Regions from separate parts of the Homo sapiens genome. Here region 2 is linked to region 1. The links come from fine-mapping of genetic effects on gene expression. Tissue or cell type: whole blood. Region 1 holds a variant in brackets; the other region holds the start of a gene. All regions are shown on one strand. Distances are from middle to middle.

The links. PIP is the estimated chance that this variant, and not a neighbour inherited with it, causes the effect.
Region 2: PECR starts here. The variant in region 1 is fine-mapped to the expression of PECR in whole blood (INTERVAL, PIP above 0.99).

Annotation. Positions count from the first base shown.
Region 1 is chr2:216,031,553-216,039,815 of GRCh38, forward strand. It overlaps PECR (peroxisomal trans-2-enoyl-CoA reductase), which reads right to left. Exons shown (of 8, transcript NM_018441.6): 8 at 6,836-7,808. The coding sequence ends at 7,723. It also overlaps a transcript of MREG not described here. Among named protein-coding and RNA genes, the nearest start is that of MREG, 22 kb to the left of the region's middle. RefSeq lists an enhancer at 703-932. The variant A/G (reference allele first, on the strand shown) is at 4,881.
Region 2 is chr2:216,077,686-216,085,685 of GRCh38, forward strand. PECR (peroxisomal trans-2-enoyl-CoA reductase) reads right to left here and starts at 4,124. Exons shown (of 8, transcript NM_018441.6): 1 at 3,933-4,124. The coding sequence starts at 4,056. It overlaps TMEM169 (transmembrane protein 169), which reads left to right and starts at 4,234. Exons shown (of 3, transcript NM_001142311.2): 1 at 4,234-4,294. RefSeq lists enhancers at 3,726-3,805, 3,836-3,885, 7,010-7,079 and a silencer at 4,076-4,335.

The DNA of each region.
Region 1 (8,263 bases):
GGGAGGGAGGGAAGGAAGGAAGGAAAGAAAGAAGGAAAGAAAAGAAGGAAAGAAGGAAGAAAAGAAAGAAAGGAACAAGGAAGGAAGGAAGAAGAAAAGAAAGAAAGAAAGAAAGAAAGAAAGAAAGAAAGAAAGAAAGAGAAAGAAAGAAAGAAAGAAAGGGAAATGAAAAGAATTGGATAAAAGCATCCATTTACCCCAATTCCCCTAATGTCCATACCAGCCTACCTCCACTTCACAATCAATCCCATTGAAACTAATCCAGATTCAATGTCTCACAGCTAAATCTCGCAGCAAGTCTTACCTACCTGAGGACTTTATCTTCCTCCTCATCTTTTACTATAAACTCTAATTGAACCTCTCTACTTCTCCGTATTTTTGTATTTCTTAAATCATCAAGGATTTTTAAAAGGCTTCAGTAAAACCAGAAATAGGCTGTTCCTCTCTTCTTGGTTCATCTGAGAACAGGAAGCCAGACATCTAACAAAATAGCCTTTGATAGACAGCTTTTCATGCAGAAGGTAAAATTACAGGGTAAGAAATTCTAACTTACATCTACTGTGAATCACTTACAGAAATGACTCTTTTTCTTCAAATCCTTGCTATTTAAGTCCATGATAATCATTTGCATTTGAAAAAGCTGACTCTGTTGAGTCATACTTAGAACTACAAACTCTGACTAAACTTGTAACTCAGTCCAGAGAAATGAAAACAAAAGCCAAATGGTCCAAAATATGCAAGAGAAACAAGGAATATTGTTTTTACTTTGCTGATTTGTTTGAGTTTTTTTCCAAATTTACCAACTGGATATAATTTCCCCACTCAAAGCATATGAACTCAGGTACAACAATGCTATAGAATAATTGGATGACATTGTCCATTTCTTGCAACCCTCCGTTGACCCAGTTGGCTTATGCTAGAGCTGACTAACTGGTAATGCTAACCCAGCATGGGAGGCTGACCAGGGGTACAGGGGTCTTCCTAGGGCCTGCAGAGCAGAATCCAGGTCAGAAGGCAATAGCTTTACACCATCAAACATATATTCTATTTGGGACCTGGTCTTCCACTCTCTCTGCCACACTCATGAACCACCATAAACTACAGGAGGCTCAGTGCAAACTCCCTCCTGTTTCTCCCCAGTAAATTTTATATGTAGTCAGCTCACTCTTCCCCATGTTACCCCCATCCAAATAATTCATTTTGGGCTCAATAATTGCTAGTTTTGATGTAGCATACCTTTCTTGAATACGGTTTAGAATCTTCCTGCTGGTTGGTCTTATTTCAATAGATGCCTTCTTTGCTGAAATGAAATCCTTGTAAACAAGGAGTGCAGAAGAAATACCAAAGCAAAAAACTAAAGCTCAAGTTGAAGCTTTGCAACCAGGTCTTGAATCCTAAGAAGGCACTGCTCAGACGGGCTGGTGTTCCACAACCAACCACAATTATTTGAATACAAATAATTCATTCATAATTCATGAGGCCATTTTCATTTTACACATTTTAAACCTTTACACCTTTTAGTTGGGGAACTTCTAAACTTACCCAAGATTGAGAGACTAGTAGAATTAACCATATAATGTATAATATAGCTGCAGACAGATAATGTATAATGTATCTGCCACCCAGCTTAGACAATTATTACCATGTTGCCAATCTCATTTCACCAACCCCCCTTCCTCCATTTTTTTAAGTTGGAATATTTTAAAGTAAATCCTAGAAATCAACATTTCTTAAATAAAAAATAATAACAACTGCCATGCCATTATCACGTTGAATAAAATGACCAGTAATTTTGCATACAAATTCCTCCGCTGTCTCAATGCCTTCACAAGAGCGAGTAAGTGGTAGAAGCTGGGATTCGAACCCAAGCAGTTGGACTCCAGTGCACTCTAAAATCTGTACTTCATGGAAAGAGAGAATCCAACAAGAGCCCTGAAGGAACTGGCAGAAAAGGGCAAAATAAGCAGAGAGAAACAGGATGCCAGGAAGCAGCAAGCAGAAAGGTCAGTAACCTCAGCAAAGGGTGGCCTCAGTCAAGAAGGGGATTTCAAGATATTTCCTATTGCGGAACTGAAGACCTCAAGGAGAACAAGTCTGAAGGCTGCAGACAAGAACAGGTGGTGGGCCTACCTATCTTGGAGTGGGGAGGAGACCTCTGTAAGGCAATGTGAATGCTGATGGCATCAGGACTTGGCAAATCTTAAGACTCTGACTCCCACCAGGCAGAACGCAGGACTGCCTCTCACTAGACTGAGCCACGGCTGCTTGAAAGCTGAAACTAACCCACAGAGGGCCTTGGTTACCATACAAATCAGAAATAGTGTTGTCCAGGATAAGATCCAAAATAGCCTAGAGATTTGGCTGTCTTAAAACATGGGCTCAGTAATCGCTAGTTTTGACGTAGCATACCTTTCCTGAATATGGTTTAGAATCTTCCCGCTGGTTGATCTTATTTCAATAGATGGCTCCTTTGCTGAAATGAAATCCTTGTAAACAAGGAGTGCAGAAGAAATACCAAAGGAAGAAACTAAAGCTCAAGTTGAAGCTTTGCAAGCAGGTCTTGCATCCTAAGAAGCCACTGCCCAGACAGGCTGGTGTTCCAAAACTAACCACAAGGTGGCACTGCTTTGAGCCAAGCCCCAGGTCATGTTAAAAAATGAATGAGATCAATGGTGAAGTTTTACAGTTGCAGAATAGCCAAATGGCAGCCATGAAAAGAAACCCCTTAGACCTCCTGCTACAGGAAACAAAATTGATTGGCTGTGGGTCCCAGCTGCTGCCCCTCTCCATCCATCACTGCCTTCCCCTCGGGCTGCTCCTGGCCTGTGACAAGCACAGCCCTGCTGTCCATCTAGGCTATTCCCTTGGGACAAGGGTGGTTCCCATGGGTGACTTTGCCTTGAGGACTTCCCATCTGCCTGGCCCTCTCTTTCTTGGACTGTACTGCAGTCTGTGATATTTTTTTTTCCTACCCAATTCCCTTCCTCCTCTCTCTCCTTCACAGTTGTCAGAACTTCATTATAGCTCTATTCAGGAGTGGCCCCGTGATGGTGGAGATGGAAAATCTTTCTAATGGGCAGCGTGTGAGAGTGCAACTGGTATCTACAATGGAATGAAAAGTGGCCCGAGATGAGAATATATACAGTGGCCAGGAAACAAGGTCTGGGGTAGAGGATTACGGATGAGCCCAGGGGAGTGGGCGCTCCAGGGGAGTGTCATTTCCGCCTCCCACGTTAATGTCCCCAGAATGCAATCCTCATGGAAGAGGTGTAGAACAACCAAGCAGTCAAGAAAACTCAGCCAGTTGATAGCTGGACTTCATCACCGGCCAGCCCAGAACTGGTGTGACAGGCACAGTGATGGAGGCAGGCTGTAGACGGCCCATTAGCATGGACTCCCTGTTAACCAAGGTCAACGGAGCTGTCACTGCCCCTGCATGTCCAACCTTCCTGCAACACAGATCATTGCTGAGCCCTGAAGTGGCATTGCTCTTTAAGGAGACCAATGGGCCACAGGACGGCCAGTCGACAAGTGGCAGGCTCCAGATGTAATTGCTCCTCTGTTCTGAGAAAATGGATCTGGGTCCTCTAAGTTGTTCCCCTGAGCCAGCGGGCTCTGAAGCTTTGTTGGGAGAGGGTGATGGAGAGACATTGGAGGAGGAAGAGGGTTTTGCTTCCTGACCCGTGCAGTGCAGACTGCTTCACAGGAGTGCTAAGGAGCACCAGCTTCCCAGCACCTCCCTCAGGGGGTTTTGCATCAGAGGCCTCTGGTAGGACACTTCTCTGTACAGTTTTCCCCAGGATGCCAGAGGGCAGGTTTCTAGCAAGTTCCACCAGCAGAGCACCACAGTGACTTCTCTGCCCTCCACTGATTCACAGCCATGCCCTCCCTACTCAATCTGGGTGTCAGCCCCAGGGGTGCTATGGAGGGCTCTTCTTTTTTTTTTTTTTTTCGAGACAGGGTCTTACTCTGTCACCTAGGCTGGAGTGCAATGGTGCAATCTTGGCTCACTGCAATCTCCGCCCTCAGGTTCAAGTGATTCTCCTGCCTTAGCTTCACTAGTAGCTGGGACTACAGACGCCCGCCACCAGGCCGGCTAATTTTTTGTATTTTTCATAGAGACGGGGTTTCACCATGTTGGCCAGGCTGGTCTCAAACTCCTGATCTCAGATGATCTGCCCACCTCAGCCTCCCAAAGTGCCGGGATTCCAGGCATGAGTCACTGCGCCCAGCCAAGGTTCTTCTTTGAGCTCTCAGTCTTAGTCCTAGTGGTGCAGGCTACTCCTGATATCTGCTATTCTCATGTTCAAGTTCTTTTTACTTCCTACTAGCCAGTCCTTCACTACTCCAATCTGCTGTGATAATCACTCTTCACTTTTAACTTGCCCTGTTCAAATTGCTGTGTGGTTTCTGCGTCACTCCTCATAGTGACAGATACCTCTTCCAGGCAAGAGTTTGTCTTTCCTGCCTGCAGGGACTCAGACACCATGACTATCTGGGGGCTATAGAAAGCCTGAACCATAGGCATGGAATCCCATGGGGCATAGCATCCAATCAGGTGACTCACCTCCCAGTGAAGGAGACGAAAGAGTGAGCCCCTGGTTGTGGAACCACTGTGTATCCACACCCCGCACCATCCATAGGCAGCCAGCCTCATAGAGGGCTTGAACAACCAAGACCCAGCTGAAGGGCCAGGATGGAGTGCTTGCTGTCTTCAAAGATGCATGTCCCCAGTAGGTTTGGGACCATGTCTGGGATCCGGTAGATGAAACTGGGAGTGGCCCTGCATTCCATCATTCCCAATGATCTGCTGCAGGATTTAAGGAGAATAGCAGCACTGGAAATCCTGGTGCCAAAGAGGGAGGCTCTTGCCAGGGGAC[A/G]TAAGGTCCCAGTGAGCTACAAACTATGACTGATGCTGGAACTGATCTCTGAACTCCCTTTGTCCAGGCACCAGCAGGAGGAGAGAGAGTTACTTTTACACTGTAGAGAATCCACATGACCCACTGAGCGCCTGCTGGTATTCCTGTGGGCCACTGTAAATGTCAATGCATACTTTCAGCAAGCCTGTCTTAAGAAAGCATCACTTTGCTGCAATCTGAGATGCCTCCTGCCCAATCCTCTCTCCCCTCTCTTTTACAGGGGTCAGCCTTGCAGCATGGTCTGAAGGCCATCGCTGCCTTCTCTGGCTCCCTGCCCTTATCCTTCATGGGCCTGGTACCCAATAAGTGTCATGCAAATCTCATTATGTCTGGGCACCTGCTTTTCAGAGGACCTGAACATAAGCCACAAAGCATAAGATTAGTGTGGGGGAGGTATAATGTTCACAAGGGTCATCTTTATCAACAAACTCTTTTTACATAAATATAGAATTTTCATTTTGTTTCCTGTCTTTCAGTTATATGCCGTGGACATCATGGCCTTATCCTTTATAGCACTCGTGTTCTCTCTCTTTCTCTCAATCTCTCCCTACTGTAAGCTCAGTAAGGACAAGATACATGTGTATTTTTTCACCATTGCATGTCTGACTCCTAGCATAATGCTAAATACATAGTAGGTGCTCCAAATTATTAAGCCTATTCAAGAACAGTCACTCTACAACAAAATTTACTAAGCGTAGTTGCAAAAGTACATTATTGACAGGATACTATTATGATGTACATAAGAGTCCTGGATAATAAATTCATAATTCTAAAAATATAGATAATGACCAGCTGTCCAGTGATAGTCTAAGAAGAAGCTCTAATAAGCAGTTGTACCTAAGTTTAGTGCTACATAGGCAGGTTCTGTCCCTTAAGCAGAAATAACTGGCAACGCTATGGAGATTTAAGGAGTCGATGGCAGTCATTAACACAGGTCATGTGAAAGCAAGCCCTGCCTTTTCCATCTTCTCCACCAACCTGTATTAGGGCCACTTTTCCCTCTAACATGGTTTGTAATTCTCAGTTGTTATGATATTATCAGTTCCAGAAGGCCACTGTTAAAGGGCTATCTGGGAGGAAAATGAAGCTTTCTGATCTTCCCACATTATTAGTATGAGCACAAAATTGAAGGACACACTCACTCTCAGGGGCAATTCTGCACTGGCACAAACCTGACAATGGAGAATAGCTCCTTAAATGCTGCACCCTGGGCACCTCATTAGCCTCTCCCTCGTGCTAGCCCTGCTTGGGAGCATGAGAAAGCTGCAGATTCTGGGTCCCAAACCCCAGAGCTTGGTAACTCACACACTTTAAAATGAGGGTAAATGACAGGCCGGGCGTGGTGGCTCTCACCTGTAATCCCAGCAATTTGGGAGGCCAAAGCGGGCAGATCACTTAAGGTCAGGAGATCAAGACCAGCCTGGCCAATATGGTGAAACACCATCTCTACTAAAAATACAAAAATTGGCCGGGCGTGGTGGTGCACACCTGTCATCCCAGCTACGCAGGAGGCTGAAGCAGCAGAATCACTTGAACCCAGGAGGTGGAGGTTGTGGTGAGCCGAGATTATGCTACTGCACTCCAGCCTGGGTGACAGAGTGAGACTCCATCTTAAAAATAAATAAATAAATAAATAAATAAAGTGAGTGTTAATGATAAAAAAAAGAAAATAGCTACTTCACCTCAGATACTTGAAAGAACTTTGATTAAGACAAAGAATGAACATATTCAATCTGCTAAAGGCATTTCTTCAATAAGGGTCTAACTATCAGACTGGAGCCACGGAAGGCAGAATATGGAACCCTAATACATTTGCATGCAACTGAAATTTTGTTTTTGCCTACAAAAGGAGATACATGGAAAAAAGGGAATACTTTGGACAGAAAATCAAGACACAAATCAGGCACTGCCAAAAATAAATCACATAAAACTTTTTCTTTGAATTAAGAGAATTTATACAAATTTGACTTCATAAACAAAAGAAACTATACATCAATAATTACCATAAGGCATTATTGCTCCTAAAGTATTTGCCACCAAAAATAAGTCATTGTATAATTCTAATTTTAATAATCTTAATTACGACACAATTTAGGTTTATTTTCTACCTTTATAATTTTGTTGTTGTTGTTTGTTTTTGTTTTTTGGGTTTTTTTTGAGATGCAGTCTCACTCTGTAGCCCAGGCTGGACTGCAGTAGCATGATCTCAGCTCACTGCAACCTCTGCTTCCTGGGTTCAAGCGATCCTCCTGCCTCAGCCTCCCAAGTACCTGGGACTACAGGTGTGTGCCACCACACCCGACTAATTTGTGTTTTTGTTTTTGTTGTTTTTCAGTAGAGACAGGGTTTTACCATGTTGGCCAGCCTGGTCTTGAACTCCTGACCTCAACTGACCCGCCTACCTCGGCCTCCCAAAGTGCTGGAATTACAGGCGTGAGCCACTGCGTCTGGCCTCTACCTTTACAATTAAATAATAAAATCTTCTGGGAGTTCATGATCCCTAGAATTATCATTGATTTAAAATTATTCCATTTTTCAAATACTTTTCTTAGAAATAAAAAGTAAAGTCATTAAAATATGTTAATTTCTGTTACTTATACATTTTTAAATCATAGGTTAAAAGACTCTGATTGGGACATAAGACTGTATATATTTCAGGAATAGTTTTTCCATAGATATAATTAATAACACTTAAAAATAAGAAAAATGTTTTCCATACCAACTATAAGCTTTTAAAAAGTACAGAAGCATATCCTCAAGATGTGAAGGCACTGGGGGATGGAGGACACCTTGTTTCCTCAGCTCAGAGCTTAGCTTTCTCCTTAAAGGTCTCCTTCATCTTTTTGACAACAGAAAGGTCCCCTGCTCCCTTGGGCCAGTTGTCATGATCTGTTAAAGAAGTGGAAAGCCTCCTGTCACTTGCAAATCTCATTTGCCCTCTTCACTCCCACCAAATCCTCTTGTTAATTTCCCTGGTTCACACATTTTCTCAGCACCAAAAAATAAATCCTTAGGGCAAACATTTGAGAAAAGACTTCAATTTGAATCTCAGGTCTGCCACACGTTAGCTTTCCTGAATTTGGGCACATGTCTCTTCCTGAGCCTCAGTTTCCTCCTCTATTAAAGGATACAACAATATCTACCTTTTAAAGTTGTGAGGGTTAAATATGACACCATGTGTGCAGTGCTTCGCATACTGTGGATCGTCAATAAATAGTGTCTCCTTAATAATCACAATTTAAAAATAGTGTCCTTACTTTGTACCAGGCACTGCTACTTGCCTCTCCAGCATCCAGGTCCCCATCTCTTCTTTCCAACAGCTTGTTTCCATTTAACGATCTAGA
Region 2 (8,000 bases), 46 kb after region 1:
AATCCCAGCTACTCAGGAGGCTGAGGCAGAAGAATCGCTTGAACCTGGGAGGCAGAGGTTGCAGTGAGCCAAGATCGTGCCACTGTACTCCAGCCTGGGCTACAGAGCAAGACTCCGTCTCAAAAAAAAAAAAAAAAAAAATATGGATTATACATGCAAAAATGGACTGGAAGGAAGTTTGTAAGATTTTTAGCCATTTTTCTGAAAATAATGTTAATTATGAGTAATTAAAATTGTCTTCGTCTTTTAAATATTTTTTAATGAACATCTAAATTATCTTTGGTTACCATCTGGCATAGTATGAAGTAAAAAAGAAAACACCTGTATTTTTCGTTAAAAAAAAAAAAAAGCAAAAATATCATCATTTTAAAAACCATGCCTCAAAGTTCATGCCAAAAAGACATAGTTCACACCAAAAAACCAAAACCAAAAACAAAAAACAGTGGCCTTCTGACTAGAAAGAAAACTGGAGGCTAGGCGCGGGGCCTCCATGCCTGTAATCCTAGCACTTAGGGAGGCTGAGGCGGGCAGATCACTGGAGGTCCGAGTTCAAGACCAGCCTGGCCAACATGCCAAAACCCCATCTCTAGTAAAAATATGACAATGTCGTGGAAATAGCCATTGATTCTGGCATAAAAAAATAAAGAGGAAAAAGTAATTATAAAAATGATTTTTATGGCCAGGCCCGGTGGCTCACAGCACTTTGGGAGGTCAAGGGGGATGGATCATAAGGTCAGGAGTTCAAGACCAGCCTGGCCAACGTGGTAAAACCCCGTCTCTATTAAAAATACTGCTCAGGAGGCTGAGGCAGAGAATTGCTTGAACCTGGGAGGTGGAGGTTGCAGTGAGCCGAGATTGCGCCACTGTACTCCAGCCTGGGCGACAGAGCGAAACTCCATCTCAAAAAAAAAAAAAAAGAAAAAGATTTTTAATATTCTTTCACTGAAGGAAATCCATTTCCAATACAACAAAATAATTGTGTATATATATTTTTAAGTATATGATGTCTTTTTCTCAAAAGACACGCCACCACTTTCATCAGAATCTCAGACAGATTCATGTCTTCCAAAAGATTACAAGACCAATGTCCTAATGTTTTAGTTTGTGGTAAGAAAAATATAGTCTATCACCTTATTCCAGGGGTGTAGTTTTTGGCCAATGCATATTTATGCAACAGGATGAAAGTTCAAATAGCACACTTATGCAACAGGATGAAAGTTCAAATAGCACACTTATGCAACAGGATGAAAGTTCAAATACATAAAAATCTATTAAAAATCCTTCAAAGTGGACTAGGGTCCTACGAATCTGCTGAGAAGCCTAGTATCTGACCTATGCATGAATTGATAACTGATTCTGATTTTCTTACAGATATTCCTGAAAGAGGATAGAGCTTGGTGTTGAGAATAAACTGGGCAGTAATGGTGATGAGGTTACATCATGGCCTTACTAGGAAATGTTTTTGCTTTTTTTTTTTTTTTTAACTAAAAACATAGATTTTTTTTTTTTAGTTCATACTGTGCCAGATGTTGGAAACACAGTCGTAACCAAAGATAATTTAGATGTTCATTAAAAAATATTTAAAAGACGAAGACAATTTTAATTACTCATAATTAACATTATTTTCAGAAAAATGGCTAAAAATCTTATAAACTTCCTTCCAGTCCATTTTTGCATATGTAATACTTTTTTTTTTTTTTGATACTGAGTCTTGCTCTGTCGCCCAGGCTGGAGTGCAGCGGCACGATCTTGGCTCACTGAAACCTCTGCCTCCCGGGTTCACGCCATTCTCCTGCCTCAGCCTCCTGAGTAGCTGGGATTACAGGCACACGCCACCATGCCTGGCTAATTTTTGTATTCTTAGTAGAGACGAGGTTTCACCATGTTTTCCCAGGCTAGTCTCGAACTCTTGACCTTGTGCTCTGCCCGCCTCGGCCTCCCAAAGTGCTGGGATTACAGGCATGAGCCACCGTGCCCGGCCCTGCATGTATATATTTTATTAAAAGTAAAATTGGGCCGGGCACGGTGGCTTACGCCTGTAATCCCAGTACTTTGGGAGGCCGAGGCGGGCGGATCACCTGAGGTCGGGAGTTGGAGACCAGCCTGACCAACATATAGAAACCCCATCTCTACTAAAAATACAAAATTAGCCTAGCAAGGTAGTGCGTGCCTGTAATCCCAACTACTCGGGAGGCTGAGGCAGGAGAATCGCTTGAACCCAGGAGGCGGAGGTTGCAGTGAGCCAAGATGGCGCCACTGCACTCCAGCCTGGGCAACAAGAGCGAAACTCCATCTCAAAAAAAAAAAAAAAGTAAAATTGGAATGCTATTAGGTTTAGAATTCTACTTTTCCCAATAATATGGTATGCATTTCTCCAAGTAAGTCTTCAATAGCAAGATATTTATTTATTTATTGAGATGGAATCTCGCTCTGTTGCCCAGGCTGGAGTGCAGTGGCTTGACGTCAGCTCATTGCAACCTCTGCCTCCCAGGTTCAAGCGATTCTTGCGCCTCAACCTCCCAAGTAGCTGGGACTACAGGTGTACGCCACCATGCCTGGTTTGTATTTTTAGTAGAAATGGAGTTTCACCATGTTGGCCAGGCTGGTCTCAAACTCCTGACCTCAGGTTATCTGCCCGCCTCGGCCTCTCAAAGTGCTGGAATTACAGGCGTGAGCCACTGCGCCAGGACCAATAGCAAGATATTTAAACGGAAGCATTATATTTCATTGTTATTGATTTAACTATTTTCCTTATATTGGATTTTTAGGTAATTTCCATTTTTTCACTACTCAAGACTACATCCTTGCATGAAAATCTTTGCTTGACTCCGTTTCCTTAAATTCCTGAAAAAGGAATTACTGTCATAGAGCATAAACATTGTGAAGGTTTTTGGATCTTTTTTTCCAAATTGCCTTCCAGAAAGTTTGTAATAATTTACATTCCTGCCTTCTCATTCCTGCATCAACACTTTAATTTTTCCCAACATTTCAAAATTTTGTTAGAAAAGTTAAATCTTACTGTTTCATATTTTATTACCAATAAAGTTGATTATTTTTTCATATGTTTCTTGCCTGTCTGTAGTTCTTCTTTTGGAACGCTTAGTCCATACCATTAGTCTAATTTTTCTATCAGTGTGTTGGATTTTTTCTTTATTTGTAAGAGCTCTTTATGTATAAGGCTGTTGGCCGAATCTAGTGGCTCAGCCTGTAATCCCAAAACTTTAGGACTCAGAGGCAAGGCAGGAGGATCCCTTGAACCCAGGTGTTCGAGACCAGCGTAGGCAACAGAGTGAGACCCTATCTCAAAACCAACAAACAATTTATCTTATGTTGCAAATATTTTTCTTCATATGCCTTTAAACTTTATATATTTTTTTAATTCAATGAGGATTTACACTTTCATACAGGTAGATTGATTTATGTTCTCCTTTGTGGTTTATTCCCTCACTTATGTGTTTACAAAGGCCTTCCTTCACCCAAGTTAAGGTAAATATTCAGCATATTTCCTTGCTGTGGTTAAGAGATGTGAGAAGATACTATGAGAGACTCACTATGTTCACAACTTTTTCCAGTTAAATGAAGTCTTCCCACGTTTCCTAATCACTCACATTAAGCATATAGAATGGATTAATTTTAAATCTGAATATAAAACTAATTGCACAGCATGTTTCACTGCTCTTCTTACTGCCTACCTGGGGCACAGTCTCTTTGGCCTGAGTGGTCTCTTCAGTTTTTAACGAGTGGCTCCACAATTCCTTAGGAAGAGCTGCTCTCTTCTGTCTCCCTGGTGGTCGTAATTTCGCCCACACCTGCCCCGTCTTTGCTCTGCAGCTCCACACTCCCTCAGCCCCGCCGAGAGCTCCTGGCTCCCGTCTCCAGGTTACCCCAGGTCACCACAGCCACCTCTCTGCACCAGCGGCCCGCTCACGTACCCAGCTCCAGGAGCTCCTTCACGATGGCTTTTCCGATGCCCGTGGCCCCGCCGGTGACGATGGCCACTTGGCCCTGCAGCAAACCAGGCGCCAGGTAGCTCCTGCCCTTAGCCCAGGAGGCCATCCCTGCAGCGGGGTGCCAGAGCAGCTGAGCGCAGGCCCTTCTGGGTCTCAGGGACATTCGAGGCGGGCGGGCGGACAGGGCGGTGCTCGAGCCCACGTGACCACCAGAACCCCGCACCCTCCCCGGCCCGGCCCCGCCCCGCCCGCCGGCCGCGGCAAAGCCGCATCCTCCCGGAGCAGAACCGCTCCCCGCCGGCTGTCCGCAACCTCCGCCAGCGTCGGTCCCTGGGCAGGTGTGGGTGAGACTGCTCGTTCGTTTCTTTAAATTTCGATGCCATTGGGGAGGGTGGAAGGGAAATGCAAAAAAAAAAAAAGAAGAAGAAAGAAACAAGCAGGGTGTGCTCTATTTCAAAAATTCAATCCTCAGGGCTGAAGCTCTCACGATTAATTAAAATTAAATCTCCAGTGCAGCTGGAAAAAGAAAGGCTGCTGCTCGGCGCCCTCGCTGCGCCCGCCTGCCGGGGTCGGACGTCGGCGATGCTGTGGCTCCAGGTGCTGTGTGCCGCTGGCTGGGAAGGGGAGAAAGGGCAGGCTTAGCTGAGGGGGAGAAATGCGGCTTTCAGATCCTTTCATCCTTCGGGAGGGAGCCCGGGAAAGAGAGTGAAGGGGAAGAGGAGATGCGGTTGCAGTTTTCCACAGAACCAAGAGAATAAACGATTTGAAAAAATAAACTCAGGCCCACCTCCGTCTCACCTCCCACTCCCCACCCAAGAATCAAGGGGAAAGATCATCTTTACCAGGTTTGAGACCTGATCCATTTCAGCTGAGCTGCATAGCGAGTCCAGAAGAGGATCTTTCCTTGAAGGGTGCACGCTTCCTGCAAGATGCATCTGTAGGTGTTTGAGATCATGTCCTGTAGTTCATTCCTTGTGCAGGAGGGTGAGCCCGCTGAGGATGGGGAAAATTTCTCGTCTGTGTTATGGTGCCCAGTAACAGTGATTTATTATTCAGATCTGCTCCTTATTTTTCATCTTGCTTCCCGCTCTGAACCCACCAGAGTGAGATTACACCTGGACTGGCCTACTGAGACTTCACCCTAAGAACTTGGTCGAATGTGCCAGTTGCTGTGGTCTTAACAATCCAGATGGGATGCTATTTCTAAGGCTGTTGTCAGAGTGTTGCATTTTCCCCGGACAGGTATTAAAATAATATAAAGGCAAATAAATGCCATCATCCTTTTGTTGGACCTACCACCTAGGATTCACAAAGCCAATTGGAAATGGGTCTGGTTGACAGAGGAATCAGACCATCACTTCCTCCACCAGGTCCCACCCACCAGCGAGGCTGCAGTTCTTGTTGGACAGCTACACTTCCCTGTTGCTCCATCCTCTTGTCCTTCTCTGATCTCTTTTTAGAATCACTTCTCCCTCTATCTTTGTTGCTGACAGATTCAAATCTACACTCGTTAAAGAAAGGAATAAATCTCCTGGTTACCATTTGCTAGATAGTTTATCCAGGAATCACTTAACTCTACTACTTAAGTCAATTCTGTAGTTAGGACCAAATTTTTAAAATTACAACGCCATCACCTCCTTTAAAACAAAGTAAATTCAAACAGGAAAGCTCAAAGTGTTGTTGCAGAAACATATAACTCCTCTTGGTTTGATCCCAATGACAAGGTGTTTTTTTTTAAGGAAAAGAAATATTGATTCAGTTCTGAGGGGTATCTTATTCAAGAGAAGTCCAGACTTTCTTTCTTGTGGGTGGGGACACTTTAAATTCTTTTAAATGATAACTTTATTGAAGATATAACTTAACATGATTTATGCCCTGGTCTGGACCTATAGATTCTTAGAGGTGTGCCAGGGTGGGTCAGTGGGAAGCTGGCTGTGCTGCAGCTTCCGTGTGGCTGCTGAGCGGACTGAGAGTGGGATTCTGATGTCTTCCAGTGAAACAGGGACTGGGGCCTGCAAACCGGTTATGCCTACTGAGGATGACAAGGTGCCATTCCTCAGCTGCAAGGAAGTTGCAGGATGAACAGTCAGAAGGCGATTTTTCATGATCCAGGCAGAACCTGCAATTAAGAGAGCTTTGGGGTCTCTTCAAGCGATCTTTTGTTTAAAATTAGGAGGCATGATCTCTTTGCCTCTGCCTCTGACCTCTGTCAGGGTTTGAAAGTCCACTAATCCGCTAAGTTCCAGGCCAAAAGGCCTGGAAGCAGAGCAATAGATCTGCTGCTTGGAAGCTCTTTGTTTTGAAATTTTAGTTCTGCCTCTGGTTGAGGCATCTCTTCCGAAGGCAACCACGCCATGCTGCACTGACCACTCCTTTGGTTGAATCAAATGCTGCTCTTCCCTGTGCTCTGCGTCACTGCCCTCTTTGTCCTGGGGAAAAAGGCATTCCTGTGGCCAAGGTCCTCCCACACCCCCGAACCTCTCCCCACAGCTCTGTCATACCCCATTAGCAATGACTGCCTTCAGCTTCCCACCCCTCCCCCACCCCATCTGCCTGGTAACTTTATTTTCTCCCCTCTGCAAAGCAGCTGCTAGCTCAGACTGACAGGGGCTTGTGGGATTCTCGACATTTAGACTCCCAGAATCTCAGTGCTGAGAGAATGTCAGTGAAGCATCTGGTCCTGCCCCTACCTTGAAGCAAAACTACCTAGCAATTGTGCCATAACAAGGCATATAAAGGAGCTTATTGATGTCTTTTTATTAAACTTCTCCTTAGTCTCAGGCTTTCACAAAAAATAAGCTACTCCTGAGTTGCTACCACTTCACCCAGTCACTTAAAAAGATTTATCGAGCATCTATTTGTTGGCCTACTTCTATGGTACCACTTCATAGGGCTTGAAGTCTAGTAGAAGAGCTATGCAATAAATAAGTAAAAGAAAAATAAATAATGACAAATGTTGGTAAGCCTTACACAGGAAACAAGCTGTTGTGATAAAGAATAATGAGAGGCAGAGCAGGGAGTCAAGTTTTTAGTTCGGGTGTCAAGAAGGGCTCAGAGGAGGAAACATTTGAACAAGGACTCAAAAAAACAAAAACGGGCACAGGAAGAGGCGGGGTGGAGCAGCAGAGCAGCAAGATAGACAGCAGTTAAGAAGACCTCAAGCATTTGGAAGCATTTGGTGCTCTTGAGGAAGAAATACACAGCCAGTGTGATTGGAGCATAGTACCCCTACTATGGTGGTACAGATGGGGTGGCAGGATGGGGAGGTCCTTAGGCCACATGGACTTCCACATGTATAACAGTAGGAAGTTACAGGAGGATTTTAAGCAGAAAACAGCCTGATTTTCTTTTTTATTTTTATTTATTTATTTGACATGGAGTCTGGCTCTGTATCCCAGGCTGGAGTGCAGTGGCAGCGATCTCGGCTCACTGCAGCCTCTGCCTCCCAGGTTCAAACAATTCTCCTGCCTCAGCCTTCCGAGAAGCTGAGACGACAGGTGCGCGCTGCCACGCCTGACCATCTGATTTTCTTTATGTTTTAAAAAGATGTTTCTGGCTGGGTGGCTCATGCCTGGAATCCCAGCACTTTGGGAGGTGAAACCCCATCTCTACTAAAAATACAAAAATTAGCCGGGTGTGGTGGCACACGCCTGTAATCTCATCTACTCGGTAGGAGAATCAGGTGGGGGAGGTGGGGGTTGCAGGAAGCTGAGATTGTGCCACTGCAGTCCAGCCTGGGTGACAGAGTGAGACTCTGTCTCAAAAAATTAAAAAAATTAAGTAAAAGATGTTGCTTACTGCTGAGTGAGGAATTGATTGGAAGGCAGCAAGAGTGGAAGCTGGAAGATAGGAGCATTTTTTTTAGAACCACAGTTAAGAGACAGTGGCCTCCTAGACCAGAGGGGAAGCAGTGGAGATGGGAAAGTTGGGTGGATGAATTTAAGAATTATCTGGGCCGGGAGCAGTGGCTCACGCCTGTAATCCCAGCACTTTGGGAGGCCAAGGCGGGCGGATCACCTGAGGTTGGGAGTTCGAGACCAGCCTGACCAA